6 linked regions of the Homo sapiens genome follow. The protein of the gene in region 3 purifies or fractionates together with the protein of the main gene of each other region. This does not show direct contact. Each region holds a gene or a part of one and is shown on either strand. Other genes may lie near its edges.

What was found.
Region 1: the proteins of RBM27 (region 3) and SRFBP1 purify together in Homo sapiens (co-immunoprecipitation; one large-scale study listed by IntAct). This does not show direct contact.
Region 2: the proteins of RBM27 (region 3) and MACROH2A2 purify together in Homo sapiens (co-immunoprecipitation; one large-scale study listed by IntAct). This does not show direct contact.
Region 4: the proteins of RBM27 (region 3) and PCF11 fractionate together in Homo sapiens (co-fractionation; one large-scale study listed by BioGRID). This does not show direct contact.
Region 5: the proteins of RBM27 (region 3) and ZC3H11A fractionate together in Homo sapiens (co-fractionation; one large-scale study listed by BioGRID). This does not show direct contact.
Region 6: the proteins of RBM27 (region 3) and ZNF346 purify together in Homo sapiens (co-immunoprecipitation; one large-scale study listed by IntAct). This does not show direct contact.

Annotation. Positions count from the first base shown.
Region 1 is NC_000005.10:121,975,111-121,978,974, forward strand, and holds part of SRFBP1 (serum response factor-binding protein 1), read left to right. Parts: intron 1-204; coding exon 205-277; intron 278-3,864. UniProt on the Homo sapiens protein: May be involved in regulating transcriptional activation of cardiac genes during the aging process. May play a role in biosynthesis and/or processing of SLC2A4 in adipose cells.
Region 2 is NC_000010.11:70,072,523-70,077,895, reverse strand, and holds part of MACROH2A2 (core histone macro-H2A.2), read right to left. Parts: intron 2,297-5,373; 5' UTR 2,238-2,296; coding exon 2,066-2,237; intron 1-2,065. UniProt on the Homo sapiens protein: Variant histone H2A which replaces conventional H2A in a subset of nucleosomes where it represses transcription. Nucleosomes wrap and compact DNA into chromatin, limiting DNA accessibility to the cellular machineries which require DNA as a template.
Region 3 is NC_000005.10:146,258,363-146,263,735, forward strand, and holds part of RBM27 (RNA-binding protein 27), read left to right. Parts: intron 1-86; coding exon 87-231; intron 232-2,382; coding exon 2,383-2,536; intron 2,537-3,147; coding exon 3,148-3,444; intron 3,445-5,128; coding exon 5,129-5,269; intron 5,270-5,373. Other genes in the region: RBM27-POU4F3, read left to right, coding at 87-231, 2,383-2,536, 3,148-3,444, 5,129-5,269. UniProt on the Homo sapiens protein: May be involved in the turnover of nuclear polyadenylated (pA+) RNA.
Region 4 is NC_000011.10:83,173,361-83,178,733, forward strand, and holds part of PCF11 (pre-mRNA cleavage complex 2 protein Pcf11), read left to right. Parts: intron 1-3,724; coding exon 3,725-3,844; intron 3,845-4,300; coding exon of another isoform or gene 4,301-4,347; exon of another isoform or gene 4,348-4,353; coding exon 4,354-4,459; intron 4,460-5,373. UniProt on the Homo sapiens protein: Component of pre-mRNA cleavage complex II, which promotes transcription termination by RNA polymerase II.
Region 5 is NC_000001.11:203,792,835-203,798,699, forward strand, and holds the start of ZC3H11A (zinc finger CCCH domain-containing protein 11A), read left to right. Parts: upstream 1-2,788; 5' UTR 2,789-2,960; exon of another isoform or gene 2,961-4,688; coding exon of another isoform or gene 4,689-5,865. Other genes in the region: ZBED6 (zinc finger BED domain-containing protein 6), read left to right, coding at 4,689-5,865. UniProt on the Homo sapiens protein: Through its association with TREX complex components, may participate in the export and post-transcriptional coordination of selected mRNA transcripts, including those required to maintain the metabolic processes in embryonic cells.
Region 6 is NC_000005.10:177,028,058-177,033,430, forward strand, and holds part of ZNF346 (zinc finger protein 346), read left to right. Parts: intron 1-5,373.

The sequences.
Region 1 (3,864 bases), about 24 Mb from region 3:
TTGCCATTTTCCAACATATGGGTTTGGTTAGTAAATTGAGGTGTGTTTTGGGAGTGGGGGAAATGGACAGTGTAGGATAGTGGCGTGTTTGTTATTTAGAGATTTATTACGCTTTTCTAAAAAGAAATGAAGTGATTATCCATTACACTATAAGTCTAAAATTAATGCTTTGCCTGGCTACATATCGTAATGTATTTTTTGCAGGGGTACTGAAGATGCACTGTTAAAAAACCAAAGACGGGCGCAAAGATTGCTTGAAGAAATCCATGCCATGAAGGTAAGGACTTGTGTGGGTGTGTATGTGTGTATGTTTCTGAGTATCCTGTTATCCTGCATTTTGTTTGTGTGTGGTATTGCTTATTTGAATATTCCCGAGAGTTGCGTAAGACATCTTGTATCAGTCTGTTTGGTGAAGAATGTAGCACATTTAGAAAATTGTAACATTTAAGCTTGCATTTTTCTGTTTTTGACTGAATTTGTTAAAGTGCTAGGCTAATTTGAGTCAAAATTGTGCCAAACTAAATTCATCTATGTTTAATAATGCCTCCTGCCTCAGGTTTTTATTTTTACTGTAACTTTAGCACGAAGTCAGTTCAAGAATTAAAGTCTTCATGCTATTTGGGAATGTGGATGGTGATATTGGTGGCTGACATCATGCTTTCCTTGTTGCCAGCTCAATAAATTTTTATGTATTGGTATCGGCATTTTATTCAGTTCTGTAGTAACTTCAAATAAAATTAGTGTTAGACCAATGTGATCCCATATTTTTGTTTTTTTTTTCAGTCAGACTCTTCACTAGCATAATTTTTAGGTCTTCTTGCTGCTCTTACTTTGAGGAAACTTTCATTTACCAAATGACATGACATTAAATGTCTGGGAGACTGTTTTACTGTAGAACTTAAAAACAACATTTGGTCCCAGCAATTTTCTTAATTGCAGGGTCATTTTGCATGCATGTTTGCCTATTATATTTTGGTATAACTTTCAAGTTTTGAATTAAGTAAAAGAGAAATAAAACTCTCTAACTATTTTAATTGAGTTAAGTTATCAAAGATTCTCAGCCTTTCTTCCTTTTAAACGGATAGTAAAGTGTTTAATAGGACAAAGTTATCCCAGTTAATCTGAATAAAAACATCTAGGAAACGACTCTTTGATATGAAGTATATTTGTTTCTTGTGTTCTTCCTTCCCTCTGCTGCACACTATTATAAAATTCATGGAATCCATCTGATATAACTTTTATTTCTCAAGGTTATAATTCCCTTTTTATTCAGTCCTTCAGGAAAAAAAAGTCTTCTGTATTTGACTGTCAGTGATCATTTGTGTCTCTGTGGTTTGCAGATTATTTAGTTTTTTCATATACCTTTTTAAAATGATATTCCTATGAGAAATAAAATCTTTAGAGATTTTGTCTTGAGAATAGCAATAAAATAGGAAGTTACAATTTATCTCTTTCACTTTCTCTTAACCAAGGTTCTTACTAAATTACATTGCCTACCTAAATTTTTCCCTGTAATTTCTTCTGAATAGTCATTTTTGTAGTCTTAAATTATTCAGAGGCTTTGAGCTACTATATAATTGCTGATTTTATTTTACCATGGAAAGAATGCAGTGTGTGTGTGTATGCATGTATATATATATATAATATATATATGTGCATACACATACACATACAATGTATAGTTGGCTACTCTGACTTTAACTTCTTTTGTAATACTGTTTAAAAACTGGAGTAAACTGGAATTTGTTAAATTTTTTATATATATAAAAAATATATACATACACACACACTACATTCTTTCCATGGTTTGTTATATATAATAACTTGTATGTGGTGTATGAAGAGTTTGAGAACAAAAGATACTCAATCTTTAGAATACTTCCCTTTTGTAAATTTCAGTGATACATTTGATTAATTAGAAAGAAAAGTTGTCCTTTTTGATCTAAATGTAAAGCCTGTTTTCTGTTTCTTGTTTTGAATCTCATCAGCAAAGGGAAATCTGATTCAGTGATAAAGTTTGTAGGTTTACAAGATTACCACATCACTATCGTGGTTTGGTTTGGTTTGGTTTGGTTTGATTTGTGTTCTATTTTTCCCTGTGATTGCGCAATGGAATGGTTGCATCATAGAAAGCCAAATTCATAGCCTATGTATTCCTTAAATTCATAAAATTCATAGTATATATATGTCTTGAGTTTGTGGCAGGAGTTAGGGCAGGCTGGGTTGGCTACTCTGACTTCAACTTCTTTTGTAATGCTTTTTAAAAACTGGAATGAATTTAAATATAAAATGAATACTAGAAAGACTATATATTTGCTGTTCTTACGTGTCAAATTTTATTCCTTATTTATGGTTCTTTTACAAATTTTGTTGTCTTTTCTAAACAAAGCAAATAAATAAAGCATTTTTCTTAATTAAAAGGTCATTTGTAATTTTCTTAGGAAATGGTTATTACCTACTTGGGAGTATCAAATAAATGATGACAAAACAAACTCTCAATCTCAATTAAATTTGGAGAAAAGACCTCTGCTCATTTATTTTTCCAGAGAAATTTTTTCCTTGGCTCAGACACTGCTTCATTTTTATAGTCTTATTGATGACATACTATCCTATTCTTGCTTTCTATAATAATAGGGTATTTTGTTGCAGGATGACTTCTTTGTGAAGAAATCATGAGTATTTTTAGAAATGAGAGTTTGCTTTTTCTGGCCAACTAAGAAAAAAAATTGGCTTGATCTTTACACTATAAAATCATAGGTTCTAATTTTATAGACTATGGTGTATGAAACCCAAGTCTTTGCTGCCTTTTCTATAATAGTGTCCATACTTTTAACTTTGATATTAGTAGAAATATTGCCTTCTAAAACAGTTTCTTTTTCTTTGAAAGTTAGTTAAATTAGCCTATCAACACTTATAGATCAGTAAGTTACTTAACTGGAGAAGGAGATGGTAAAATTCAAGCATATACTGAAATTACTCAAAATGTGCAACAAGTCTCTTACTCAATAATAAAAGTAACAACTAGCTTTTACTGAGCATTTACTATGTGCCAGGCATTATATTATGTGTTTTATATTTACTGTCTCACTAGGTAGATATCATTTTTATCCCTGTCTTACAGAATAAGAAACTCAAGCTTAGAGAAACTGAGCAACTTATAACTGATTATAAAGCTAATTATGTTATCCACTGTAGTATACTGCTTCAGTAAGTTGAGAACATCCTATGATATATCCAGACTCACTTTCCTAGATATTGGAGGAGATAATTTAGTAAACATGAAACTTGCCATCTAGGAAAAAAAAGACTGAAAGATGTGCAACGTGTTTTCAGATCCTTTAATTCCTGACAGGTAAATATACACAGTAGCCTATATCTGTATTTCTTTTTTTTTTACTTGAGATGGAGTCTCTCTCTGTCGCCCATGCTGGAGTGCAGTGACCCGATCTCTGCTCACTGTAACCTCCGCCTCCTGGGTTCAAATGATTCTCCTGCCACAGTCTCCTGAGTAACTGGGACTACAGTTGCCTGCCATCATGCCTGGCTAACTTTTGTATTTTTAGTAGAGACAAGGTGTTGCCATGTTGGCCAGGCTGGTCTCGAACGCCTGACCTCAGGTGATCCGCCCACCTCGGCCTCCCATAGTACTGGGATTACAGGCGTGAGCAACCACTCCTGGCCTATCTGTATTCTTTTTTAACCTCTTCCTCTCTTAAGGCTGTTACTTCTTCCTATCCTGAATATTCTTTAAGATGAGAATTTATGTATTCTTCTTTGAGACCTTGTTCTGCCTGCTACCTCTTACTTCTCCTCTAGTTTAAAACTTTCTCCTTTTGTTCTATTCTTCCCCTAGTTTTACATTCT
Region 2 (5,373 bases), on a different chromosome or scaffold from region 3:
ACCTAACAGGTTGTTTTAAAGCCTCATAAACTCTTCTCAAAGTCTGTTCTCTCCCTGTCTCAGCTGGGAGGTTTTCCCATCAGATTCCTTGGCCTCACTCCAGATCCAGTGAATCAGACCCTTTGAGAGTATATCTAGGAACTTGCATTTTATTTTTTATTTTTATTTTTGTATTATTATTATTTTTTAGTAGAGATGGGGTTTCACCGTGTTAGCTAGGATGGTCTCGATCTCCTGACCTCGTGATCTGCCCGCCTCGGCCTCCCAAGTGCTGGGATTACAGGCGTGAGCCACTGTGCCCGGCCTTTATTTTTTGAGACGGAGTCTCGCTCTGTCACCTAGGCTGGAGTGCAGTGGTGTGATCTCAGCTCACTGCAACCTCCAACTCCTGGGTTCAAGTGATTCTCCTGCCTCAGCCTCCCAAGTAGCTGGGATTACCGGCCTGTAATCCCAGTAGCTGCCATCACGCCTGGCTAATTTTTGTATTTTTAGTAGAGATGGGGTGTCACCATATTGGCCAGGCTGGTCTCGAACTCCTGACCTCAGGTGATCCACCCGCCTCAGCTTCCCAAAGTGCTGGGATTACAGGTGTGAGCCACTGTGCCTGGCGGGAACTTGCATTTGAAACAAGCATTCCCCACATCTTTTGGCTTGAGGTTAAAAGGCTGGCTACAATCTTGCTATTCAACATGTGGTCCCTGGACCAGCAGCATCATTATCACCTGGGAGTTTGAGGAATGGAGTCTCAGGTGCCACCCTGCCCTTGTCAACAAGATCCCTGCGTGACCCCACTTGGAAAAGAACTGCTTTTCAGAGCCCTCCAGCTCTCCCCAACCTCCTAAAGGAGGGAAGGACTTTTAGCTCAGGAGGAAGGCTTTCATTTCATAAGAGGAAGGAAGGCTCATGATGCAGAGGTCTGCCTGGTGGAAGCTCTCGGGGGAGGACATTTCCTCCTTGGATCCGTGGATCAAGGAAAACCTTTCACCAATAAATGTTGGTTGGTGGGCGATGGGGACTAAGAGGGCAGGGCAGGACTGAGCATCTAAAGAGGAAAAACCAGCAGAAAAGAGGAATCTGGGGACAGAAGAGAGGACCAGCCCTGCCACAGCCCAGAGGATTTCATGCAGTGAGGCTTGCCTCCCCAGTGTTAGACCATCTGGGGAGGTTTGCTTTTTAACCTGGCAGAATTTCCAAGGAACTTAACCTTGGTGTCTAGGGAATTTGTTAACCTTGGGCAAAGTCAGAGACATTGTTGCTCGTGGCTATTACCCAACAAGGGACTAAATCATACTTATTGTACATATATATTTATATATTTTATTTGTAAATACTTCTGAAAAGCACCCCTGATATTGTAAAGTTTGGTTTCTATTTAACTATGACATAAGAGAACAACAACAAAAAAGCTAAAGAGAAAGTTACTAAGATAAAGAACACACACAGCAAAATCTCATCTTTCAGTAAAAAAATTAACTTTAACAACAAATATGGGAAACTATTTTCTGTGCACCCCTATTAGACGAGAATCACCTCAGTGAAGGAGAGCAAAATTAGAACATTACATCGGCTTCATGCCAGCACCTGAAAGATGCTTTTAATGATGCGATAAATGTTATTTATGGACCCTGAGTCCCAGTTTAAATATACCAGGAAAACTAATGTTTAATGAGCAATTTGATGTAAAAAGACTCCCTTTTACAAAATGAATATCAAATCCCCCATTCTCCCTGCAGTTTATTTTCTTCAGGAGCTTAGATATTTATATATTGCATTCGCTTAAAGCAAGACATATCTTTTGCAGGACTGGTCTAGGAGGGCCACTTACTTGATTGTGGGTTCTCCGCCTTCCATGCTGATCACCTGTCCTTCCTATACCCTCTTCTCTCCCCTAAAGTCTGCAGAAGTTGATTTTAGCCAAGCAGGCCAGTTGCAACCCTGTCACCACCCACAGTAGCCTTGAGCCAGCCAAAAGGCAATTTGGAGCATCCCTCCCCAGCCTGCGAGGGGGACCCAGGGGAGGGTGGGGACCTGGGAGCAGGCAGCCTCCTTTGCGTGTCCTCATTACCTGCCAGGTACTCAATGACTGCCGCCATGTAGACAGGGGCGCCCACGCTGATCCGGTACTTGAACGTCCCTTTCTTCAGATAACGCATCAGCCTCCCCACTGGAAAGATGACACCTGCCCTAGCTGAACGGGACAGCTTGGACATTTTCTTCTTCCCACTCCGGCCCGACATCTTGCTTCAGTTTCCCTCTCAGCTTGCTGACACAGTGGCCTCCCGGCACTAACACAATGCTAAAAAGGAAAGAAGACAGAGTTGAGGAAGGGTAGTTGGCAAACATCTTGGGCACAGTGGCATGGCCCTTGGGCACCACTGTGACACCTCTGACTGCCCTGGGGAGGCAGCTGAAATCTGGCTGCTACTGCAGGTGCAGGAGGCACGGAGTCAGGCATGGGGTCTCTGAAGGGCATGGGCAAGCCCACCCACAAACATCCCTCCCCCACCAAAGCAGCCTGACCTCAAGAGGAAAGGCCACAGAAAACTGTCACTGAATAGGGAGGTCTCGGTCCTGTGGTCAGCTGAACAATGATCCCCAAAGATGTCAATTTCCTCATCCCCAGAACCTGTGACTGTTATCTTATATGACAGAGACTTTGCAGATGGGATTAAGCTAAGGGTCTTGAGATGGGGAGGTTTATCTTGGATTATCTGGATGGGGCTAACATAATTGCCTTAGAAGACGGAGGCAGGGGGTCAGAGTGGGCAGTAAGAGATGTGAGAACAGAAGGAAAAGGATTTTCCCCTCAAAGCCATCAGAAGGAATTAGTCCTGCTGATACCTTGACTTTAGCCCAGTAAGGCTAATTTTGGACTTCTGACCCCTGAACTATAAGAAAATAAATTTGTATTGTTTTAAACACTAAGTTTGGGGTAATTTGTTCCAGCAACAATAAGAAAACTAATACAATTCCTCTTGGCTTATATGACTTTGCCCATTATAATGGTTAGTGTATTAGTCTGTTCTCACACTGCTAATAAAGATGTATCCAAGACTGGGTAATTTATAAAGAAACAGAGGTTTAATGCACTCACAGTTCCACGTGGCTGGGGAGGCCTCACAATCATAGTGGAAGGTGAAAGGCACGTCTTATATGGCAGTAGACAAGAGAGAATGAGAACCAAGCGAAAGGGGTTTCCTCTTATAAACCCATCAGATCTCGTGAGACTTATTCACTACCACGAGAATGGTATGGGGGAAACCACCCCCATGATTCAATTATCTCCCACCAGGTCCCTCCCACAACATGTGGGAATTATGGGAGCTATAATTCAAGATGAGATTTGGGTGGGGACACAGCCAAACCATCCGTTAGGTTTGACAGACATAACTGAGAGCTGATGTGTATTTTTTAGACACTTTTCTAAATCCTGCAATAATGTAGCACTCAGAAATGGAAACAGGCCAGAAGAGGCAGTTTTACTGAATATGTGTGGTATGCAAACATAGCAAATGAAAAGCCATAATGCAGCCTGAGCGTCTGTTCCTTGGAATGAGGAATCCAGGTTGATTTTGGGAGAAACTTCACAGTCAGCACAAAGAGGTGAATTCAGCACCAGGAACTAAGAGAGAAACATTCACTGTTGCTTAAGGAAGCTATCTTTTGTGTGAAGACAAAATAATCACATATTCCTGGACAGAGTCTTTGTAAGCCCACCCACAATCTAGAAAATTGTAGTAGATCTTGGGTAGGCTTGGTCTGCTGGTTGACAGGGTACCGTAACCGACAAATGGAATATAATCTTCAGTAAGTAAAAGCAAATTACAAGGGACAAACGGTCAGGAGCAAAGAAAAGGAAAATGACATTTTCTAGGAAATGTGTTAATATATCAAAGCTCTCTTCCCCAAGGTCAATGGCGTTCTCAGGGGCCGTTTCCTCTGGAGATGAAAAATGAGAAAGTCAGAACAAATTGAAATTGGTTCTATCCATTGATCCTGGTTAGGTCATCATACCAACAGGCAAGATGGCAAAGGAAAGGAGGGCCCAAGAAAGTCCCTAAATATGACAGAAGAAGATATTAAATGAATGCTTGGTTAATATGAAATAGATACAAAACCAGGATTTACTTAATCTAGGTGAAAGAGTGAACAGATTTCAATTTTCTAAAGCATCTGATAACTCCATTACGACCAAGGAGACTATATTAAAAGCTCTGAAATTAGCAACAAAGCCCTTTCTCAACTCTCACCTGTCCCCGAGGTGAATGATTCAAGTTTGGGGCATTTTAGTATATACTTCATATACATTATTTAAAATGCTCATATGTACTTACTACTCCCCTATTTTATACTTCATATGTCGTTTTGCCACCAAAGGATGTAGCTATTCATCAGTTAGGTACAAGCAAAGATGAGAGAAGTGCCTTAGACTATTATCTCTTTGACTGCAAGGCCCAGAGATCAGGCAATGTTGCCATGTTGTTTTATCACGTTGTTTCTTCATCTGGAAGAAACAAGATCTCCCACCTTTGCCGTGCTGCTGCTGTCTGTGGCTGCTCACTCTCATAAATCCACTTGTAGGGGTTTTCTCTTTGAGGAAGCAAGCAACTATGTGTTAGGTAAATGTATGGAGGGCCTGCTGTTAGTCAGCCCTGTCGCAGGAAAGAGGGGAAACAGACAGCATTGCTAAGTGGTCCCTGTCCTCACATAGCACGTGTTTGCTAGCTGGGTTGTGGTGCTCTAAATGGAGGTGGCTCTTGCTATAGTGGAAGGAGCCCAGGACTGCGGAACAGAAAGTCCTGGGCATAGCGCCGCTTCTACATAACTACAGTCATGCACCCCACAATGACCGCATATGACGGTGGTCCTGTATGATCATAATGGAGCTGAAAAATTCCTATGCCCTAGTGACATCTTTTTGTTGTTGTTGTTGTTGTTTGGGAAGGAGTCTTGCTCTGTCCCCTAGGCTGGAGTGCAGTGGTGCAATCTCGGCTCATTGCAACTTCTGCCTCTGGGGTTCAAACGATTCTCCTGCCTCAGCCTCCCAAGTAGCTGGGACTATCGGTGTGCACCACCATGCCTGGCTAATTTTTGTATTTTTAGTAGAGACGAGGTTTCACCATGTTGGCCAGGGTGGTCTCAAACTCCTGACCTCAAGTGATCCATCTTCCTCAGCCTCCCAAAGTGGTGGGATTACAGGTGTGAGCCACCACACCTGGCCAACCTAGTGACATCCTAACGGTGTAGCACAATGCCTTACTCATGTGTTTGTGGTGATGCTGATGTAAACAAACCTACTGTGCTGCCAGTCATATAAAAGTCTAGCACATATAATTATGTATAGTATATAATACTTGATAACAAATGACGATG
Region 3 (5,373 bases):
CATAGTAGTTTTTAGCTTTTAGACTAAATATATTAATCATTGAGACTCCTGAAAAACTCAGTAATTTCAATTTTTTTTTCCAACAGCTGCTAACATTGTGATCCAGACTGAACCACCAGTTCCTGTTTCGATTAATAGCAACATAACCAGAGTAGTTCTTGAACCAGATAGTCGAAAAAGAGCTATGAGTGGTTTGGAAGGGCCACTCACAAAGAAACCTTGGCTGGGAAAGTAAGATAATTTGCTAATTAGTAGCATCTAATTGTTATTGTCGTTTGCATTGGTAAATTCATAAAAATAAGATTTGTCATTAATTAATGTTTTTCAAACTAGGTATCTTGAAGTTAGGGTTCCAGGAGACATCTTTAGAATGTTGTAAAAATTAAAAAGTTAACAATATTTATAATTTTTTTTTTTTTTTTAAAAGACGTAGTCATCCAGGCTGGAGTGCAATGGTATAATCTCAGCTCACCTCAACCTCTGCCTCCTGGGTTGAAGTGATTCTCTTGTCCCAGCCTCCTGAGTAGTTGAGATTACAGGTGCCAGCCACCATGCCCACCTGATTTTCTTGTATTTTTAGCGGAGATGGGGTTTCACCTTGTTAGTCAGGCTGGTCTCAAACTCCTGACCTCAGGTGATCCACCCACCTTGGCCTCCCAAGGTGCTGGGATTACAGGTGTGAGCTACCACATCCAGCCCAAAATAGGTATTTCTAATTCGTACCTACCTATTTCTACGCCTAACCCAATATTAGAAATTACTGAGACACTAGCAATGGATAGAAAAGAAGAAAAAAATGAAATCAACGGTGAAAAAAAAAAGCTTAGTACCTTTGCAGAAGTTGAAAATATGCCGTTAAAGATGATGTTCTAGCTGGGCACAGTGGCTCACGCCTATAATCCCAGCTCTTTGGGAGGCCAAGGCGGGTGGATCACTTGAGGTCAGGAGTTCGAGACCAGCCTGACCAAAATGGAGAAAGCCAAAATACAAAATTAGCCAGGTGTGGTGGCACGCGCCTGTAATCCCAGCAACTTGGGAGGCTGAGGCAGGAGAATCGCTGGAACCTGGGAGGCGGAGGTTGCAGTGAGTTGAGATTGCACCATTGCACTCCAGTCTGGGCAAAAAGAACAAAACTCTGTCTCAAAAAAAAAAAAAAAAAAAAAAAGGTGGTGTTCTAGCCTTCATTTAATGATGTTAGAGTCTTTGATAATTGTGGTAGATCTTTATGGTAGATCTATTTAGCATATGATTTTAAGTGTTAGTTGGGCCTTTTCTTTTTGTAATCTATTGCTGTTCACCTTTTCTATTCTCATGTAATAAGAATAATGTGGCCGGGCGCGGTGGCTCACGCCTGTAATCCCAGCACTTTGGGAGGCCAAGGCGGGTGGATCATGAGGTCAGGAGATCGAGACCATCCTGGCTAACAAGGTGAAACCCCGTGTCTACTAAAAATACAAAAAATTAGCCGGGCGCAGTGGCGGGCGCCTGTAGTCCCAGCTACTCGGGAGGCTGAGGCAGGAGAATGGCGTGAACCCGGGAAGCAGAGCTTGCAGTGAGCCGAGATTGCGCCACTGCAGTCCGCAGTCCGGCCTGGGCGACAGAGCGAGACTCCGTCTCAAAAAAAAAAAAAAAAAAAAAAAAAAAAGAATAATGTTGGCCGGGCGTAGTGGCTCACACCTGTAATGCCAGCACTTTGGGAGGCCGAGACGGGTAGATCACCGACGCCAGGAGTTCAAGACCAGCCTGGCCAACATGGTGAAACCTTGTCTGTACTAAGCATACAAAAATTAGTCGTGCGTGTTGGCATGCACCTGTAATCCCAGATACTCAGGAAGCTGAGGCAGGAGAATCACTTGAACTTGGGAGGTGGAGGTTGCAGTGGGCCGAGATTGTTCCACGGCACTCCAGCCTGGGCGAATGAGTGAGACTCCGTCTACAAAAAAAAAAAAGAAGAATGTGAAAATTGCTTAGTAATTTCCGAAGAATGTTAAGGGCTCACAAAAGGAACTTTAAACAAATTAATCAATCAGTTAATTTATTACATAGAGATGTGGTCTTACTATGTTCCCCAGACTGGTCTGGAACCCCTGGGCTCAAGCAATCCTCCTGCTTTGGCCTCTCAGAGTGCTGGCGTTACAGGCATGAGCTACTTCGCTCAGCCTGTAATCTGTTTCTGGATGCTTATGTATTTTCTGTGGTTTGAATTTTGAATATAATGTTTCATATGATTTTGAAGAAGTTTTCTGGGATTATAGGTGGAGCCACCATGCCCAGCCACAAAAGGCACTTAAAAAAATTATAAACCTAAATTCTTTGTGGTTATATCTCTTTGCTAGGCATGAAGTAGGAGAATTAACCAAGATGTATTAATCTTCCTTTTAGGCAAGGAAATAACAATCAAAATAAACCAGGGTTCTTACGAAAGAATCAGTATACAAACACCAAATTAGAAGTCAAGAAAATCCCTCAGGAATTGAACAACATTACCAAGCTCAATGAACACTTCAGCAAATTTGGAACTATTGTTAATATCCAGGTAAATGTGGCTATGTCAGTGACAGAATCCAGGCATTTTATGGGTCTTGGGAATATTTCTATCAGCTCACCTTGTTTAAATGAGTCAGTGGTTATTCTGATCATCTCTGCTAAGTGCTGTAAATGCCACCATATATCTATATACCCACTTTTATGATGGACTTGTTAAACCATGTTTGTTCTTGTGAATTCATTTGGTTCTTTTCTGCAATCTCTTCCTGAAAGAGAATGGGTAGCCTCACAGTTTTGGAGACTGAGAAGTCCAAGATCAAGGTGCTGGATGATTCATTTCCTAGGGAGTGCTGTCTTCCTCGCTTGCAGATGGTTGGCTTCTTGTGTTCTCACATGGCAGACAGAGAAAGAGAAAGAGGGGGTCAGGGCAGATCTCTTTCTCTTCTTTTAAGGCCACCGATACTATTCATTAGGATGCACCTTTGTGACCTCATTTAACCTTAATTACATCCTAAAAGCTCTATCTCTAAAACAGTAATGTTGGAGTTTAGGGCTTTAACATGTGTATTTTGGGGAAAACATTCATTACATAGCAGTGGGTCATAATTTATTTAACTATTTTCTGTTTTTGGGAATTTATATTGTTTTATTTTCTTCAAGGTTGCTTTTAAGGGTGACCCAGAAGCAGCCCTAATCCAATATCTTACCAATGAGGAGGCCAGGAAAGCCATTTCTAGCACAGAAGCAGTTCTAAACAACCGATTCATTCGAGTCTTGTGGCATAGGGAAAATAATGAGCAACCGACACTACAGTCCTCAGCACAGCTGCTCCTGCAACAACAGCAAACACTTAGTCACCTCTCACAGCAGCACCATCACCTGCCACAGCATCTACATCAGCAGCAGGTGCTAGTGGCCCAGTCTGCTCCTTCAACAGTGCACGGAGGTATCCAGAAGGTAATCTGGTTCACTGGGAATTAAAGGTCTTTTAGTTACACCCTCTAGATCAGTATTTTTCAATTCCTGGTCCTTGGGTCTTCTACAGAAGAGCTACTCTTAATTTGAACTGCAGACCAGTAGCATCTGATCTCCTGGGATCTTATAGAAATGCAGATTCTTGGGGGAAAAATTTCAGATTCTTGAGCCATACTCCATCCTACTGAATCAGAATCCCTATGGGTGGGGCCCAAGGATTTGTGTTTTAACAAGCTCTCCTGGTGATTCTTACATACCTTAAAGTTTGAGACCTGCTATTTTACATCAGAATCACTTACCTGGGTGCAAATTTCTGGGCTTCAGCTTCTCAAACCTCTGTAGAGTCAGTCTCTAGATACAGGGCCTATAAATATACATATTTAACAAGTACTCTTAAGTTATTGTTATGCACCCTAAAGTATAATAACCATCTACCACAGAGCAACTTTAACTGTAGAGCTATTTATTTTTTAGAATCAGTCTTTTTTGTGTCTACCCATTTGCCCTCCTTTTTCCCATGTAAAAAAGTTATATGTTCCTTCTAAAAATGGGAATAGAAGCTCCAAGAGAATTGGAATTTTGCCTGTTGTGTCCATTCTATCCCTAGTGCCTAAAACAATGTCTGGTACATATTGCTCAAAGCATATTTGATTGAATAGATGAAGGAAGGAAAAAACAAAACAACAAACTACCACACATCAGAGCCATTCAGAGATTGACCTAGATAATCTCATGCTTAGATTAAATACAGTCAGATTTTTAAAAAGTATTCCTTACAGTACATGGCATCAACTCCATTTATCATCCTGCTCATTTGCATCTAAATTCTCTTTCAGTTATGTTTGTATCCCACTTCATGTAAGGGTGCAAAGGTGAATGCTTCCCCTAGATGTTGGGTGAATAGTGTAGAAAAGAGTTCATACTATCACCTTCATGGTGATGATTAAACATGTTCTGTTAGTACAGCCCAAGATTGCATTATGTTTTTGAGGTGATCATTTCACAATTATTCATATTAAGCCACTGTCAGTTAAGACCCCCTAATTCTTTTCTTCTTCTTTTTTCCTTTTTTTTTTTTTTTGAGACAGTCCTGCTTTGTCGTCATTCAGGCTAGAGTGCAGTGGCTCAGTCTTGGTTCACTGCAACCTCTGCCTCCTGGTTCAGGCTACCTGCCTCAGCCTCCTGAGTAGCTGCGACTACAGGTGCATGCCACCACCCCTGCCCAATTTTTGTATTTTTAGTAGAGACGGGGTTTCACCATGTTGGCCAGGCTGGTCTTGAACTCCTGACCTCAGGTGATCCACCCACCTTGGCCTCCCAAAGTGCTGGGATTATATGTGTGAGCCACTGTGCCCAGCCAAGACCCTCTAATTCTTTCAGAGCATTGCATACTAGAGGAAACATTAAAAAATAATTAATGGTTTTTTTGTGTGTAGGTGCATGTATATTTTGTTGTGATATGTTTTAGACATCCCAAAAAGTATGAATAATCTATCATTTGTATATTCACCAGTTCCCCTTAAAAAATAAAACCTTACGGATAATTGAAGCACCTTCCCGTTCCCATTTTCTTATCTTCTTCCCTAGAGTAATCATCTTAAATTTGTACCATTTCTAGGCATGTTTTTAAACTTCTGCCACATAAGTGTTCATTTTGTATGTGCAGATGATGAGCAAACCACAGACATCAGGTGCATATGTTCTTAACAAAGTTCCTGTTAAACATCGTCTTGGACATGCAGGTGGTAACCAGAGTGATGCATCACATTTGTTGAATCAGTCTGGTGGTGCTGGAGAAGATTGCCAGGTATGCATTTTTGGGAGCTTCAGATATATTTAGAATCATTCAGTGAATTAACAGAATAAATCAGTTATCATTCAGACAGTGAAGACAGTTGTGACAGTTAACCT
Region 4 (5,373 bases), on a different chromosome or scaffold from region 3:
AGGAGAATCGCTTGAACCCAGGAGGTGGAGGTTGCAGTGAGCCAAGATCAGGCCACTGCACTTAGGCCTGGTGACAGAGTGAGACTCCGTCTCAGAAAAAAAACCAAAAACCAAAAAAAAAACATGATATGGTAGTATCAGTATTTGTCTGTTTTGTTGTTGTTTTTTTTTTTTTAGAGAATCAAATGATATAGTATATGCAAAAGTACTTTGTAACTTGTAACTTGTCAAGTGCTATATTAATGTATTTTCCTTTAGAACTCAGTTTTTATTGTTGAGCAGAGGATTTGTTATATTGGGGTTAGTGGCATGAGATGCTCTACAGAAACTACAAATTTTCTTGTTTCTTTCTTTCTTTCTTTTTTTTTTTTTTTTTTTTTTTTTTTTGAGACGAGTCTTGCTCTTGTCACCCAGGCTGGAGTGCAGTGGCATGATCTCAGCTCACTGCAACCTCTGCCTCCTGAATTCAAGCAGTTCTCCCGGGCTCAGCCTCCCCAGTAGCTGGGACTACAGGCACATGCCACTACACCTGGCTAATTTTTGTATTTTTAATAGAGGCAGAGTTTCACCATATTGGTCAGGGTGGCTTGAATCCTGACCTCAGGTGATCCACCTGCCTTGACCTCCCAAAGTGCTGGGACTACAGGTATGAGCCACTGTGCCCAGCCTTGTTTTGCTTTTACAACCTTGGGTTATATGTGTATGTGTACAGGACATAGCAGTGTCACAGAGGAAATCATAATTATTCCCCTTGTTAGGGGGTATTGAATGGGACATTAGGTGTGTCTTCATTCTTCAAGTTCTTCTTACTCTTAAAAGATGTGTCAACAGTTTTCAGTGTGCTATATTTAGCTTCTCTCAAGGTTCCTTCTCTAATTTGAAAGTGTAAACATCCCTTTTCTAGTAGGAAATATACCCATGTTCATTTTTCAGACATATATTAGTCATCTGCTGTATGCTAGGCAGTATGCTAGGATGAATTTAATAAGGTTCATCCTTCAAAGACCTTTATTTTTATTTTTAAAGTTTTTTTTTTTTTTTTAAAGAGGGTGCTCACTATGTAGCCCAGGCTGGTCTCAAACACCTGAACTCAAGCAATCCTCCCACCTCGGCCTCCCAAAGTGTTGGGTTTATAGGCATGAGCCACCACACTCGGCCTCAAAGAGCTTTATAATATAGAAAGGCTATTGATTTTTTTTTTTTGGTTTAACAAAAAACACATAATAATGCCAAACACCTCAGTTCCTTAGAAATATTAATTCATTTAACCTCATATCAATCTTAGGTAGGAACTATTATTACCCTTTTTACAGGCACGGGAAACTGAGGCATAGATAAGGAACTTGATTATGTCACACAACTAGAAAGTGGAATTTCTGGTTAAAATCCCTGGAGTCTGGTTCCACAGTTTATGCTGTTGGTTACTAGACTTGGCTGCCCTCAGACATCTGAATAGCTAATTGTGCATCTTAGGCATATAAATAGCTAATTTAAAGGAAAGTAAAGGTTAAACTAGTGAGTTAAATGTTACTGTAATTGATTATTGAAGTTGATCTCTTCATTCATGTATTCAGACATTTAGTTTGAACAGACATTAATTAGCCTACGATATATAAGGCAGTATGATAAATGTATACAGTGGTTAAGGGTAGGGATTATCTGTATGTGGATGCAAATTGAATTTCTGCCATTAAGAGGAATTTTTAGTGGTTCAGAACTTTTCTGTATAGGTGTAGTGAGATGCATCATAGTGACATACAAATACATTAAAATATTGTTTTCTTTTTTTTGAGATAGGGTCTTCTTGCTCTTTTGTCCAGGCTGGAGTACAGTGGGGTGATCTTGGCTCACTGCAACCTCCTCCCAGTTTCAAACGATTCTCATGCCTCAGCCTTCTGAGTAGCTGGATTACAGGCATGGGCTACCACAACCGGCTAATTTTTGTATTTTTTAGTAGAGACGGGGTTTCACCATATTGGCCAGGCTGGTCTCAAACTCCTGACCTCAGGTGATCCACCTGCATCACCCTCCCAAAGTGCTGGGATTACAGGTGTGAGCCGCTGCACCTGGCCTAAAATATTGTTTTCATAGTTAAAGAATCACAATTATGGCCGGGCACTGTAGCTCACACCTGTAATCCCAGCACTTTTGGGAGGCTAAGGCAGGCAGATCATGGAGTCAGGAGATCAGGACCATCCTGGCTAACACGGTGAAACCCCGTCTCTACTAAAAATACAAAAAGAAATTAGCTGGGTGTGGTGGCACGCACCTGTAGTCCAGCTGCTCTGGAGGCTGAGGCAGGAGAACGGTGTGAACCCAGGAGGTGGAGCTTGCAGTGAGCTGAGATCGTGCCCCTGCACTCCAGCCTGGGCAACAGAGTGAGACTCTGTCTCAAAACAAAAACAAAAACAAAAAAAGAATCACAATTATTAGAATAGTGCTTGGAAAAATATGAGACTGGAATGATTCCTCACCAATGAGGATTCCTTATCAAGCAGAACAAGATTGTTAGGCTTATCTTATTTATTCAAGTTATTGAAGCTTTAGTAACCATGACACCTTTTCAGCAATAGCTTGAGCTGCTTTGCAAGGGCAGTATGCTTTTTAGCAAAGGTCATAGGAGCAGGTATACTCTGAGCCATCTGATTCATCTCCCTGTTTCAGTTTTCCTGTTACGTCAGGGAGCATTGAGGTCAGGAGTACTTCCACTTAGGCTTAGTGCTAAGGGGTAATAAACTATTTCATCTATATAAAACTACTTTTTCCAGTGTACTTAGAAGATGAGGAAGAGAGATTAGAAAGGTGGAAAGTTGGAGATGGGGTGGTGCTGCATTGCTTGGGAGAAGGGAGCATAAAGGGTCATTATTTTCAGTGTTGTCAGCATTTGTTTTAGAATATATTCTCAACTCCAGTGTGGTGATTCCTCAAGCATCTAGAACTAGAAATACTATTTGACCCAGCAATCCCATTACTGGGTATATACCCAAAGGATTATAAATCATGCTTTTATAAAGACACGTGCACACATATGTTTATTGTGGCACTATTCACAATAGCAAAGACTTGGAACCAACCCAAATGTCCATCAATGATAGACTGGATTAAGAAAGTGTGGCACATATACACCATGGAGTACTTTGCAGCCATAAAAAAGGATGAGTTCATGTCCTTTGCAGGGACATGGATGAAGCAGGAAACCATCATTCTAAGCAAACTATCACAAGGGCAGAAAAACAAACACCGCATGTTCTCACTTGTAGGTAGGAATTGAACAATGGGAACACTTGGACACAGGGCAGGGAACATCACACACCAGGCACAGTCGGGGGGTGGGGGGTCTGGGGGAGGGATAGCATTAGGAGAAATACCTAATGTAAATGACGAGTTGATTGGTGCAGCAAATCAACATGGCACATGTATACCTATGTAACAAACCTGCACGTTGTGCACATGTACCCTAGAACTTAAAAGTATAATAAAAAAACAAAAAAAAAAGAAGGAAAAAAGAATATATTCTCAAGTCATGCTGACTTGTAGACCTAAATGAAAAGATAATCTTAGGGGCTTTTGAAATTAAACTTATTAATAAATTAGATTTTGTCAAATTTACTGTTGGCAGGACATCTTGAAGAAAACTTTGAAAAATGCTTAGTATAATTTGCATCTTTAAGTTCTACATTCACTTCAAAAGTGGTTTTTTTTCTTTCTTTCTTTTTTTTGTTAGGAGCCCTCCCTAAGGCATATCCTGATAATCATCTCAGTCAGGTGGATGTAAATGAATTGTTTTCAAAATTGCTAAAAACAGGAATTCTCAAATTGTCCCAAACTGATTCAGCTACAACACGTAAGTGTGATTTTATACTTAAATTTACACAAAGCTTCATTAAGTTTTTGAGATGTATGATGTAATATAATGATATAAGTTATGATAAAGGTCCTTACAATAATTGAATTCCTAGGTATAGCTTTTATTTTTGATTTTCGGTTTATAATGAAATTCTTTTAGATTTCCTAAGATTGAACTACCTTATAGTGGACATGTGTTTCAGTTAACTAACATACCTAATGTGCAGGCTTTTTACCAGTAATTGTATGTTAGATTAACTTTTGAAAAGGTTTTGAATATTAATGAAATAAATGACTTTTATTATAGATGACTTTTAAGAAATCAGAGTTAACATCACATATCAAAATAAAAAATTGTATTAGGTTCCTTGGCCAGTAAACTTGAGATCAGAAGCACTGAATGGACTAGGTGGATTTCTCTATTTGCTTATAATACTATAGTGTTCCTCTGTAGAGAATACATGGAGAATGGTATTAAGAAATTTGTATGTCTCTTCTTAATTGAAGAAGTAAGTGAAGTAACTGCTCAGCCTCCCCCTGAAGAGGAGGAAGATCAAAATGAAGATCAAGATGTTCCAGATCTTACTAATTTTACAGTTGAAGAATTGAAACAGTATGTAATCTAATTTTCTTTAAGATAAAGAGGCAGTGACTTTAATAACACTGTTATAGTGGACATTGTTACTATTAGTGCTTTCCCTTTCCCTTTATCCCTTTTACTGTTTTAACATTTAGGAAGTCTTTTTTTTTTTTTAATGTGGTAAAATATACATAACATAGTCTTTGGGAAGCCTATTTTTAAATCGTCTTTTAAAATATGTCTGCTGTACAAGTACTTGGGCCAAAGGCCACCCCCAAAAGTCTTACTCTGCTGCCCAGGCTGGAGTTCAGTGGCGTGATCCTGACTCACTGCAACCTCTGCCTCCCAGGTTCAAGTGATTCTCCTGGGATTACAGGTGTGCACCACCATACCCAGCTAATTTTTGTATTTTTAGTAGAGATGGGGTTTCACCACGTTGGCCAGGCTAGTCTCGAACTCCTAACCTCCAGTGATCCACCTGCCTTGGCCTCCCAAAGTGCTGGGATTACAGGTGTGAGCCACCACACCTGGTCCCTCAAAATTTTCATTTTTTAATCTGTGATACAGAAAACTTAGGGAGTTTAAATATTAGGTATTGATAATTCATGTATTCCTGTTTAGTTTCATTTTCTGTGTATCATCATTTTTTCTGTATTGATATTCTTAACATTTTTGAGGTTCAGAAATGAGATTTTCATAGTTCAGCATTTACAATTAAAAAAAAATCGGCTGGGCGCGGTGGCTCACTCCTGTAATCCCAGCACTTTGTAAGGCCGAGGCAGGTGGATCACGAGGTCAGGAGATCGAGACCATCCTGGCTAACAAGACCATCCTGGCTAACATGGTGAAACCCCGTCTCTACTAAAAATACAAAAAATTAGCCGGGCGCAGTGGCGGGTGCCTGTAGTCCCAGCTACTCGGGAGGCTGAGGCAGGAGAATGGTGTGA
Region 5 (5,865 bases), on a different chromosome or scaffold from region 3:
CTCCTGAGTAGCTGGGATTACAGGCGGGTGCCACCACACCCGGCTAATTTTGTATTTTTAGTAGAGACAGGCTTTCGCCACGTTGGCCAGGCTGGTCTTCACCTCCTGACCTCTAGTGATCTGCTGGCCTGGGCCTCCCAAAGTGCTGGGATTACAGGCGTGAGCCCCTGCCCAGCTTGCCCTCTTCAATGTCCTTATTACCCTATTATTTTTTCTTTCCCCCCCTTGAGAGATACTAATGGAAAATGAAACATGATTGTTTCCATCAATAAGGGACTGGTGAAATAAATTGTAAAAAGAGGCTTACAGAGAGCGGGATGGGAGCTATTAAAAAGAATGTAGGCCGACGTGGGCAGATTACCTGAGGTTAGGAGTTCCAGACCAGCCTGGCCAACATGGAGAAACCCCGTCTCTACTAAAAATACAAAATTAGCCTGGCGTGGTGGTGCATTCCTGTAATCCCAGCTACTCAGGAGGCTGAGGCAGAAGAATAGCTTGAACCCGGAAGGCGGAGGTTGCATTGAGCCGAGATTGTGCCATTGCACTCCAGCTTGGGAAACAAGAGTGAAACTCTGTCTCAAAAAAAAAAAAAAAAAAAAGAATATGGTAGGCCTCTAAGTGCTGATGACCATTAAAAGATATTCAAGATATATTGTAAAGTGAAAAAAGCAAATTGCAAAACGGTATGTATAGTTTTAGCCTGTTCATATTTTCATTCATTCTAAGATGTACATCCTTTCCTAGCCTGTCACCTAGGCTGGAGTGCAATGGCGTGATCTTGGCTCACTGCAACCTCCACCTCCCAGGATCAAGCAATTCTCTTGCCTCAGCCTCCAAGTAGCTGGGATTACAGATGCGTGCCACTGTGCTGGGCTAATTTTTGTATTTTTAGTAGAGGCAGGATTTCACCATGTTGGCCAGGCTAGTCTCGAACTCCTGACCTTGTGGTTCGCCCGCCACAACCTCCCAAAGTGCTGGGATTAGAGGTGTGAGCCACCCTGCCCGGCCGGCCTGTCAGTTTAATTGGCAGTTGTTGGTTTTTTTCTTCCACTTAGAGGCTTGTAAAATAAAAGTGTATCTTACAATCAATGATACTTTAGGTTTACTGAAATATAACTATAAACTCTATATAGCACACTAGTCAGGCCAGGACTGCATCTTGGAGAGTCCTAGGTTGGAAAACCCTTAAGCTATGTGGAGAGCCCTCTGGTAAATTTTAAAAACCCTAGGTGTCGTGGCACAGACAGAAATTGGTTACCAGTAAGAGTCACACAGACCAAAAAAATGAAGACCAAAACAAAAGAAAAAGAAAAAGAAAGAAAAAAAGAAATTGGCTACCAGGAACTTGCTTATTAGGTCTGTTGACATGGCAATGCCAGAGCACTGTCACGTAAGGCAGAGATTGGAGCTAAGATTCTAAAGTTGTGGTTCTTACTTTGAAAGGAGATAAAAGCCCAGATATGAGGAGGCTCAGGACCCCTCTGCTCTGATAAATTCCTAGTCTTGGGCTGCCTGGGACTCGCACATCACCAACCCGGCAGCTGGAAGAACAAGCACACGAGGAAATAAAAGGTGCCTGAAGTCCCATCTGCTTTATCATCAAGTGTTTCCTTTCTTAGTAGCACAACTATATCCTTTACCCAAGTTAGGTAAAATGTTGCCACCTAATTAGAGTTCTGCTGAGCCACTACCCCAGGGGGACCTTGGGCTCCTATTATATGTGTAATATATTTAAGTATATTTTCAGTGTAAAAGCCAGAAAGGATATATGGTAAGTTAATGAGAGCTATTTCTCAAGAATGAGATTAATAGAGATTTTAACTTTCTACTCTCTATATTTCTGTATTGTTTCTAAAAAAACTTACGTGTATTAAGTTTTTTACTTTTTTTTTTTTTTTTTTTTTTTGAGATGGAGTCTTACTCTGTCGCCAGGTTGGAGTGCAGTGGTGCGATGTCAGCTCAATGCAACCTCTGCCTCCCAGATTCAAGCGATTCTCCTGCCTCAGCCTCTCGAGTAGTTGGGACTACAGGCGCGTGCCACCACGCCTAGCTAATTTTTGTATTTTTGGTAAAGATGAGGTTTCACCATGTTGACCAGGATGGTCTCGATCTCTTGACCTTGTGATCCGCCTGCCGAGGCCTCCCAAAGTGCTGGAATTACAGTCGTGAGCCACCGCACCGGCCACGTGTATTACTTTTATAACCGGGGGAAAAAGTAAAAACATTCAAAAGGGAAAATAAGGGACAATGTTAATAATGAAGCAGGGATGAGACTGCTGATTGCGACCTCCAACTAACTCTCCTGAATTTTGTCACGAGCATGAATTACTTTTCCAATACACAAATTTGCTTTAAGAAATCAAAGAAACACCCCCCCAAAGCCCAATCTCACTTCTTCAAGTAAAAAATAAACTAACAAATCATTCTACATTGCATGCTTAGGAAAAGTACAGTTTATTTCTAAATTAAATGTATACATGGTTTGGGAGATTTACTCATTAAGCAAACACTTTGGTAAGAATAAATTGAGCGCTTACTGAATGGCAGTCTCAGTTCCTGCGGCCCTCCCGCTTATTACCTCATTTGATTTAAAAACAAAAACAAAACGTTATGAAAGCCGGCTTCGAGGCATTCCTCTGAAGGGAAGGGACTCCCCGACCCAGCGCCTCCCCCGTCACGTGACCCTGTGACCCGGAGCAGCCATCTTAGGCATCGCCTCATAGAGGAACTACATCTTCCAGAATCCTCGCGCCCTGCGTCGTGCTGGCACTTTTACCGGCCGGGCCTTAGAGCGGAGCCTGTAGCCAGGCGCCATCTTTGACGCTGGCAGTCTTGGTTTTCTGCTAGTGCTGCTGCTGCTGGGAGGACGACGGACGGCAGCGGCCAAGCAAGAAGAAAGACGTGGCAGCAAGCGGGAGTCGGGGATAGTGTCATCGGTTCGGTAAAGTTTCTGTTCTCTGGTAACTAGACCCGTTTTTTTGATTCCCGGGTGGCTTGGGGCCGGGGAGGTGGGGGAGAGGGCGAGGGGAGTGGCAGCGGCCTCCCCTCGCCCCTGGGTCGCGGCCTATCCCGGGAAGTCAGAGCGGATCCTTCAGCTTCGCCGTAACGACCCCTCCCCCCCACCTCCCGGTCGCGGCCCTCGCCGGGGCTGGCTGGGAGCCCCAGGCTCCCGCTCACTTTTCCCATCCTCCCCACCCCCACCCCGTTCACCCCACCCCCACGGCGCCTGCTCCTTTCCCAGCCAACCTTCCTCCCCTCCCCCACATCCGGTGTTCGCTAATCTCGAGGAGCCCGGAGCAGCCCCGAAAACCGACTGTTCCCCCGAATCCCGAAGAGAGAACTGACACTAGATTGCTTTCTTCGGGGCAACAGTTTCTCTAGTTGAGCGGACCCTCACTGCCTAAATCAATCAGACTGAGTGCCGGGCGCTGAATTTACCTACTCTCATTCCTCTCCAGGGTCCCGGTACTTTGGAGCTTGTCTCAAACTCCACATACAGAAAGCCACCGACCTTATTCCGGTATCCTACACCCATTCCCCACTCTCATTACACTCCCACCCCTGGCCCTCAGCGTCGGAGTCAAGAGCAACAGGGACACTTCCGTTCTCCTTGTAGGACTGGTGAAACCGTAATGAAGAACACCCCTAAACTCCCATAATCGGTGCGGATTCCTATGGGGAAGGCCTATATTGTTGACATCTTCCAGGCCTTGGTTCTGGACCTTGAGAAAGAGGCTGTGGAACTAGAGATAGCGATGCTTTTTAGGGTAAATGTATGTAGGTATTGGGGGAAGGGGAGGGATCAATCGAAAAATGGAAGTGGTTTAAAGTTCATATTTCACTTTTTGCTATCTCTATAGCGTACAACTTGTGAGTTACTTACAGGCTGTAAAAGCTTCTCAAGTCTAAAAATATCTGAAAACTAAACTTGAATTAACTCTTAATACAAACAGTACTTTGAAAATGCAGCATTTAACCTTGTTTTAAAATTTTTTTCTCAAAGCATTTTTTTCCAGCCACTCACATTTTAAAAGGTTGTATTACTTTTAGTTAGAACTGAAAGGGCTCAACTAGCATTTGCTGTGACCAGTATGCGGAGTCTGTGTTGGCTTTCCAGAATTGACTTTTTGGGTTGTATTGGCAAATCACAGTCCTAAATGATGAATGTTGAATGATGCACTATGTTTTTGTTTAAATGAGATTTCCTGAAAATAGTTAATTTCAGAATTAAGGGAAATTGATGTCGCTATCATGAGGCATCATAAAAATATGTATTTTACAAGGTGAAGGCATTTCAAGTAGATATAGTTCTTGATGAAGCAGGAAGAACATGGATCTGGGATTTGGAAGACCTGGCTTCTAGCTGCTACTAACCAACTCTGTGACTCTGGGAAAGGGGGACTCAGTTCTTACTTCTGTAACATGAGGACACTGGACTATTTGAATTCAGAACTTAGAAAATTGGAAGGGACCTTAAAGCCCTCTAAGAAAGAGTTCGGGAATGTTCTCCATTGCTGTCAGTTTTCCTCCAAAAATAACCTGGCTTGGAAGTTATTGGTCCAGTGGGAATTTGATTCCCCATAGAAACTGGAGAAAAGGTAATGCAAGTAGAGAGGAACAGCTGTATTTCTGCTTGAGTAATAAACCCACTAACAGATTCTGGTACGAATTGTGGAGACATAAAGAGAATGAGTGTATGTACTCTAAGTGTACCAGTTTCTTCACTCTCTCCTGGCAGAAGATGCAACACTTTTAGTGATTCTGGGATTCTGGGATGTGTTCCTATTAATTCTAATACAGATGAAGAAGATGTGGTAGAGGAAAAGATGGTAGCAGAAGGAGTGAATAAAGAGGCAAAACAGCCTGCTAAAAAGAAAAGAAAGAAGGGTTTGCGAATTAAGGGGAAAAGGCGTCGAAAAAAATTGATTCTTGCCAAAAAGTTTAGTAAGGATTTGGGATCTGGGAGGCCTGTTGCAGATGCCCCTGCTTTGTTAGCTTCCAATGACCCTGAGCAGGATGAAGAAAGTCTTTTTGAGAGCAATATAGAAAAACAGATCTATCTACCTAGTACTAGAGCCAAGACCTCCATTGTGTGGCACTTCTTTCATGTTGACCCCCAGTACACCTGGCGGGCCATTTGTAACCTCTGTGAGAAAAGCGTCAGCAGGGGTAAACCAGGTAGCCATCTTGGTACATCTACTCTTCAACGACATCTGCAAGCAAGGCATTCACCTCATTGGACCAGGGCCAACAAGTTTGGAGTTGCTAGTGGAGAGGAGGACTTTACCTTGGATGTGTCTTTATCTCCCTCTTCTGGAAGCAATGGAAGCTTTGAATATATTCCTACTGATCCATTAGATGATAATAGAATGGGCAAGAAGCATGATAAATCAGCATCTGATGCCCTAAGGGCAGAAAGAGGGAGATTTCTCATCAAAAGTAACATTGTCAAGCATGCTTTAATTCCTGGAACTAGAGCCAAGACATCTGCCGTTTGGAATTTTTTTTACACTGATCCTCAGCACATCTCAAGAGCTGTGTGTAATATATGTAAAAGAAGTGTGAGCCGGGGTAGGCCAGGGTCCCACTTAGGGACTTCAACACTTCAACGACACCTGCAAGCCACACATCCTATCCATTGGGCTGTTGCCAACAAAGACAGTGGTGCTGTTGCAAATGGATTAGATGAAGCTGAGACTGAGAGAAGTGATCTCTTGAGTGATACCTTGCATGGAGAAAAGTCTACAGGCAGCCAAGATTTAACAGCTGAGGACCTTAGTGACTCTGATTCAGATGAACCTATGTTAGAGGTTGAAAACAGATCTGAAAGTCCTATTCCCGTTGCAGAGCAAGGCACTCTGATGC
Region 6 (5,373 bases), about 31 Mb from region 3:
TTTTTTTTTTTTTTTGAGACGGGGTCTTGCCAGGCTGGAGTGCAGTAATGATCACTGCAGCCTTCGCCTCCCAGGTTCAAGCAATTCTCCTGCCCCAGCCTCCCGAGTAGCTGGGATTACAGGCATGTGTCACCATGCCCGGCTAACTTTTTTGTATTTTTAGTAGAGACGGGGTTTCACTGTGTTGGCCAGGCTGGTCTTGAACTCCTCGAACTCTAAAGTGATCTGTCCGCCTCTGCTTTCCCAAAGCACTGGGATTACAGATGTGAGGTCCCTGATTATTTTCTTGGTTAGTCTAGCTAAGAATTTGTCATTTTCTTGATCTTTTCTAGTTTCTAAGGTAAGATCTTATGTTGCTGATTTGAGTGATTTGAGATCCTTCTTTTCTGATGTAGATGTTTAAAATTATAAATTTCTCTCTTAAGCACTTGTGACGTTTTATATATATATATATATATATATATTTCCCTCCATAGTTCCTGGCTCACAGCTTCTATAACCCTTGTACTTTCCTCAGTGACTAAAGCAGTAAGAGTATCTTCTGTTAAAATATTTGGCCTTTTGTCCTTGCTTCCTGAAACACCTCTGGAACTGCTCCAGAGCAAGAAAGGTGAAAAACAGACTTTTGTTATTTATAACAAGCCCCTTTCTTTTTTTTTTTTTTTTTTTTTTTTTTTTATGAGATGGAGTCTCGCTCTGTTGCCCAGGCTGGAGTGCAGTGGTGCGATCTCGGCTCACTGCAAGCTCCGCCTCCCAGGTTCATGCCATTCTCCTGCCCCAGCCTCCCAAGTAGCTGGGACTATAGGCGCCCACCACCACACCTGGCTAATTTTTTGTATTTTTAGTAGAGACGGGGTTTCACCATGTTAGCCAGGCTGATCTCGATTTCCTGACCTCGTAATCTGCCCTCCTCGGCCTCCCAAAGTGCTGGGATTACAGGCGTGAGCCACCGCACCCGGCCATATAACAAGCCCCTTTCAGCCACACCTTGGTACATGTTAATAGGGTGATTTTTGAGAAGTCCCTAGATTACCACATTCTGGTTGGCTGGTTGCCATAGGAACCAACCATGTGCTCAGAGGCTTGGAAGTTACAGCCCCCCATCTTGAGAGGGTAGAAAGGAGCTGAAGGTTGAATTGATCACCGATAGCCAGTGATTTAATCAACCATGCCTATGTAATGAAGCCTTCATAACAACCCAAAGACCTCAGTTTAGGGGCTTCCAGGAAGGTGAACAAGAACACATTCATGTGCTGGAAGTGTGGCACACCCCAATTCCATGGGGATAGACGCTCCTACACATTAGACCCTTCCAGACCTGGCCGTATGTATCTCTTTATCTATTTGTATCCTTTAACATATCTTTTAGGTTGGCCTGACCCAGTGGCTCCTGCCTGTAATTCCAAAACTTTGAGAGGCCAAGGCAAGAATGTTAGTGGCCATGAATCTCAATTTCTGCCTCCTCAGAAGAAAGAATTCAACCAAAGGGGCATAAGGCAAAGTGAGAGACCAAGGCAACTCTTAGAGCAAGAGTGAAAGTTTATTAAAAAGTTTTAGGGCAGGAATGAAAAGAAGTAAAGTATACTTGGAAGAGGACCAAGATGGCGACTTGAGAGAGACAAGTAGGCGGTTTGACCTTTGACTTGGGATCTTACACATTCACACGCTTGCTGGGTCTTGCGTGTTACTTCTCCCCTGGTTTTTCCCTGAGTTCTGTGAGCTGCTCTAGCAAATTAATTGAATCCAGGGGTGTCATGGAAACCTCGATTTATAGCCGGTTGGTCAGAAAAACAGGTGAAAGAATGTGGAACCTGCAATTGGCATCAGAAGTAGGGCTCAGTCTTGTAGGAATAAGCCCTCAACCTGTAGGATCTGAAGCTGTCTCCAGGTAGATAGTGTCAGAATTGATTTGAATTAGGGGACACCAACTGGTGTCCACTGCAGAATTGAGTGCTTGGTTTCTGGGAGGAGAAAACCCACACATATGGTCACAGAAGCGTTCTGTATTGTAAAAGTAAAGTAGGATAAACTGAGTTTTTTTTCTCCAGAGCACTGCTTTAGTTGCAACTCATAAATTTTTGAATGTTTTATTTTCACTTAAATCAGTTCAAAATAATTTCTAATTTCCCTTGTAAAATTTCTTCTTTGATACATGTTATTCAATTTCTAAATATTTGAGGATTTCCCAGATTTCTTCCTATTGTTGATTTCTGATTAAATTCCATTGCGTTCAAAGAATATACTTGAGATGAGTTCAGTCCTTTTAAATGTAGTGCAACTGGGCTGGGGGCGGTGGCTCACGCCTGTAATCCCAGCACTGGGAGGCCGAGGCGGGTGGATCATTTGAGGGCAGGAGTTCAAGACCAGCATGGCCAATATGGTGAAACCCCCATCTCTACTAAAATACAAAAATTAGCCGGGCATGGTGGTGCCGTGCCATGGGGTTTCACCGTGTTAGCCAGGATGGTCTCGATTTCCTGACCTCGTGATCCGCCCGCCTCAGCCTCCCAAAGTGCTGGGATTATAGGCGTGAGCCACCATGCCTGGCTATTTCATTTTTAAATAACAGCTTTATTGACGTAAATCTCACATTCCATAAAATTCACCTGTTTAAAATGTACAATTCTGTGGTTTTTAGTATATTCACAGAGTTCTGCAACCATCACCACTGTCTAATTTTAGAACATTTTCATCACCCCAATAAAGAAACCCTATACCTAGGAGCAATCATCCCTGGCAACGACTTATCTCCTCTCTTTATGGATTGATGCCTATTCTGGACATTTCATGTAAATAGAATTGTATAAATATGTGGCATTTTTGTGACTGGCTTCTTTCGCTTAGTGTAATTTTTTTTTTTTTTTTTTTTGGTTTTTTTTTGAGACGACATTTTGCTCTTGTTGCCCAGGCTGGAGTGCAATGGCATGATCTAGGCTCACTGCACCCTCTGCCTGTAGAGTTCAAGCGATTCTCTTTTTTCTGTTTTATTTTGTTTTGAGACAGAGTCTCGCTCTGTCGCCCAGGCTGGAGTGCAGTGGCGCGATCTCGGCTCACTGCATGCTCCGCCTCCTGGGTTCACGCCATTCTCCTGCCTCAGCCTCCCGAGTAGCTGGGATTACAGGCATGCGCCCCACAGCCAGCTAATTTTGTATTTTTAGTAGAGACAGGGTTTCTCCATGTTGGCAAGGCTAGTCTCAAACTCTCAACCTCAGGTGATCTGCCGCCTTGGCCTCCCAAAGTGCTGGGATTACAGGCATGAGCCACTGCGCCTGGACACTTAGTGTAATGTTTGCAGGATCATTTGGCTGGATATAGAATTCTTAGTTGACATTTTTATTCTTTTTCACCACTTTGAATATGTCATTCCAGTGCCTTCTGGCCTTAATTGTTTTCAAATAAGAAGTTGTCATTAATTGAATTATTTCACTGTACATGATGAGTCATTTTTCTCTCTCTCTCACCGCTTTCAGGATTTTCTGTCTTTGCCTTTCAACAGTTTGTGATGTGTCTAGGTGTAGCTCTCTTCACATTTTTCCTAGTTTGGGTTCCTTGAGATTTTGGAATGTGTAGATTAATGTTTTTCATCAAATATGGGAGGTTTTTGGACATTTTCTTCAAATATTTTTTTCTACTCTCTCTCTCTTCTCTCTTCTTCTGAGGCTCTCCTTACACATATGTTAGTATGCTTGAAGTTTTTCCATAATCTCTGAAGCTTTGTTCATTATTCTTCAATGTTATTTCTCTTTGTTCTTCAGATCAGCTATTTCTATTGCTGTATCTTCAAGTTCACTGATTCTTCTGCCATTTTGAACTTGCTGTTGAGCTCCTCCAGCAAATTTATTGTATTATAATTTCAACTCCAGAATTTCCATTTGTTTGTTTTATTAGTAGCAGATCATCAGTACCCTTACATTTGCTTTCTTCATGCCTTTTCTTTTTTCTTTTTTTTTTTTTTTTTTTTTTTTTTGAGATGGATTTTCACTCTTGTTGCCCAGGAGTGCAATGGCACAATCTCAGCTCACTGCAACCTCTGCCTCCAGATCCAAGCAATTCTCCTGCCTCAGCCTCCCGAGTAACTGGGATTATAGGTATGCGCCACCACACCTGGCTAATTTTTTGTGTTTTTAGTACAGATGGAGTTTCACTATGTTGGTCAGGCTGGTTTTGACCTCCTGACCTCAGGTAATCCACCCACCTTGGCCTCCTAAAGTGCTGGGATTACAGGCGTGAGCCACTGCACCCAGCCTTTTTTTGTTTTTGTTTTTGTTTTTAGACAGAGTCTTGCTCTGTCACCAGGCTAGAGTGCAGTGGCGCAGTCTTGGCATGCTGGGATTACAAGCATGAGCCACTGCACGCAGCTTTTTTTTTTTGAGACAGAGTTTCGCCCTTGTCACCCAGGCTGGAGTGCAATGGCACAATCTCAGTTCACTGCAACCTCCACCTCCTGGGTTCAAGCGATTCTCCTGCCTCAGCCTGCTGAGTTAGCTGGGATTACCAGCCCTCTACCACACCTGGCTAATTTTTGCACTTTTTAATAGAGATGGGGTTTTACCACGTTGGCCAGCCTGGTCTCAAACTCCTGACCTCAGGTGATCCGCCCGCCTCGGCCTCCCAAAATGCTGACATTACAGGTGTGAGCCACCATGCCCGGCCTCTTCATGCCCTTTTCATTGGATAGAAATTTGAGCTTCTTGAGACCATCAGCAGTATGGATTTGGCCAGGCATGGTGGCCCACACCTGTAGTCCCAGCTGCTTGAGAGGCTGATGCAGAAGGATCACTTGAGGCCAGGAGTCTGAATTCAGCCTAGGCAACATAATGAGACTCTGACTCTAAAAAATTAAATTAAAAACAAAAACACAGTATGGACTCACAAAATGGAAGTACCAGTGCTAAGTAGACTTAATAGGACCGTCTTGTTCATTCTTTTAGGCCATACTGCCCATTAAAATACTACATTGTCTAACCATTCTCATCCATGGGTAGATTATACCCAACCTCCCTTTCCTATGATTGTTTGAGGGGTTTTTGCTTTTGAGATGGGGGATCTTGCTCTGTCACCCAGCTGAAGTGCAGTGGCGCAATTATGGCTCACCAGAGCCTCGAACTGCTAGACTCAAGTGATTTCCCCCATGTCAGCTTCCCTAGTAACCAGCACTACAGGCGTGTGCCACCACACCTGGATAATTTTTTAATTTTTTTTGTAAAGATGAGGTCTCACTTTGCTGCCTGTGTTGGTCTCAAACTCCTGGCATCAAGCAATCCTCTAGCCTCAGTCTCCCAGAGTGTCAGATTACAGGCGTGGGCCACTGACCCAGCCCTAGGATCTTTTATTTTCTGCTTTCTGACTATAGCTATACCTAAAAACCCTTTG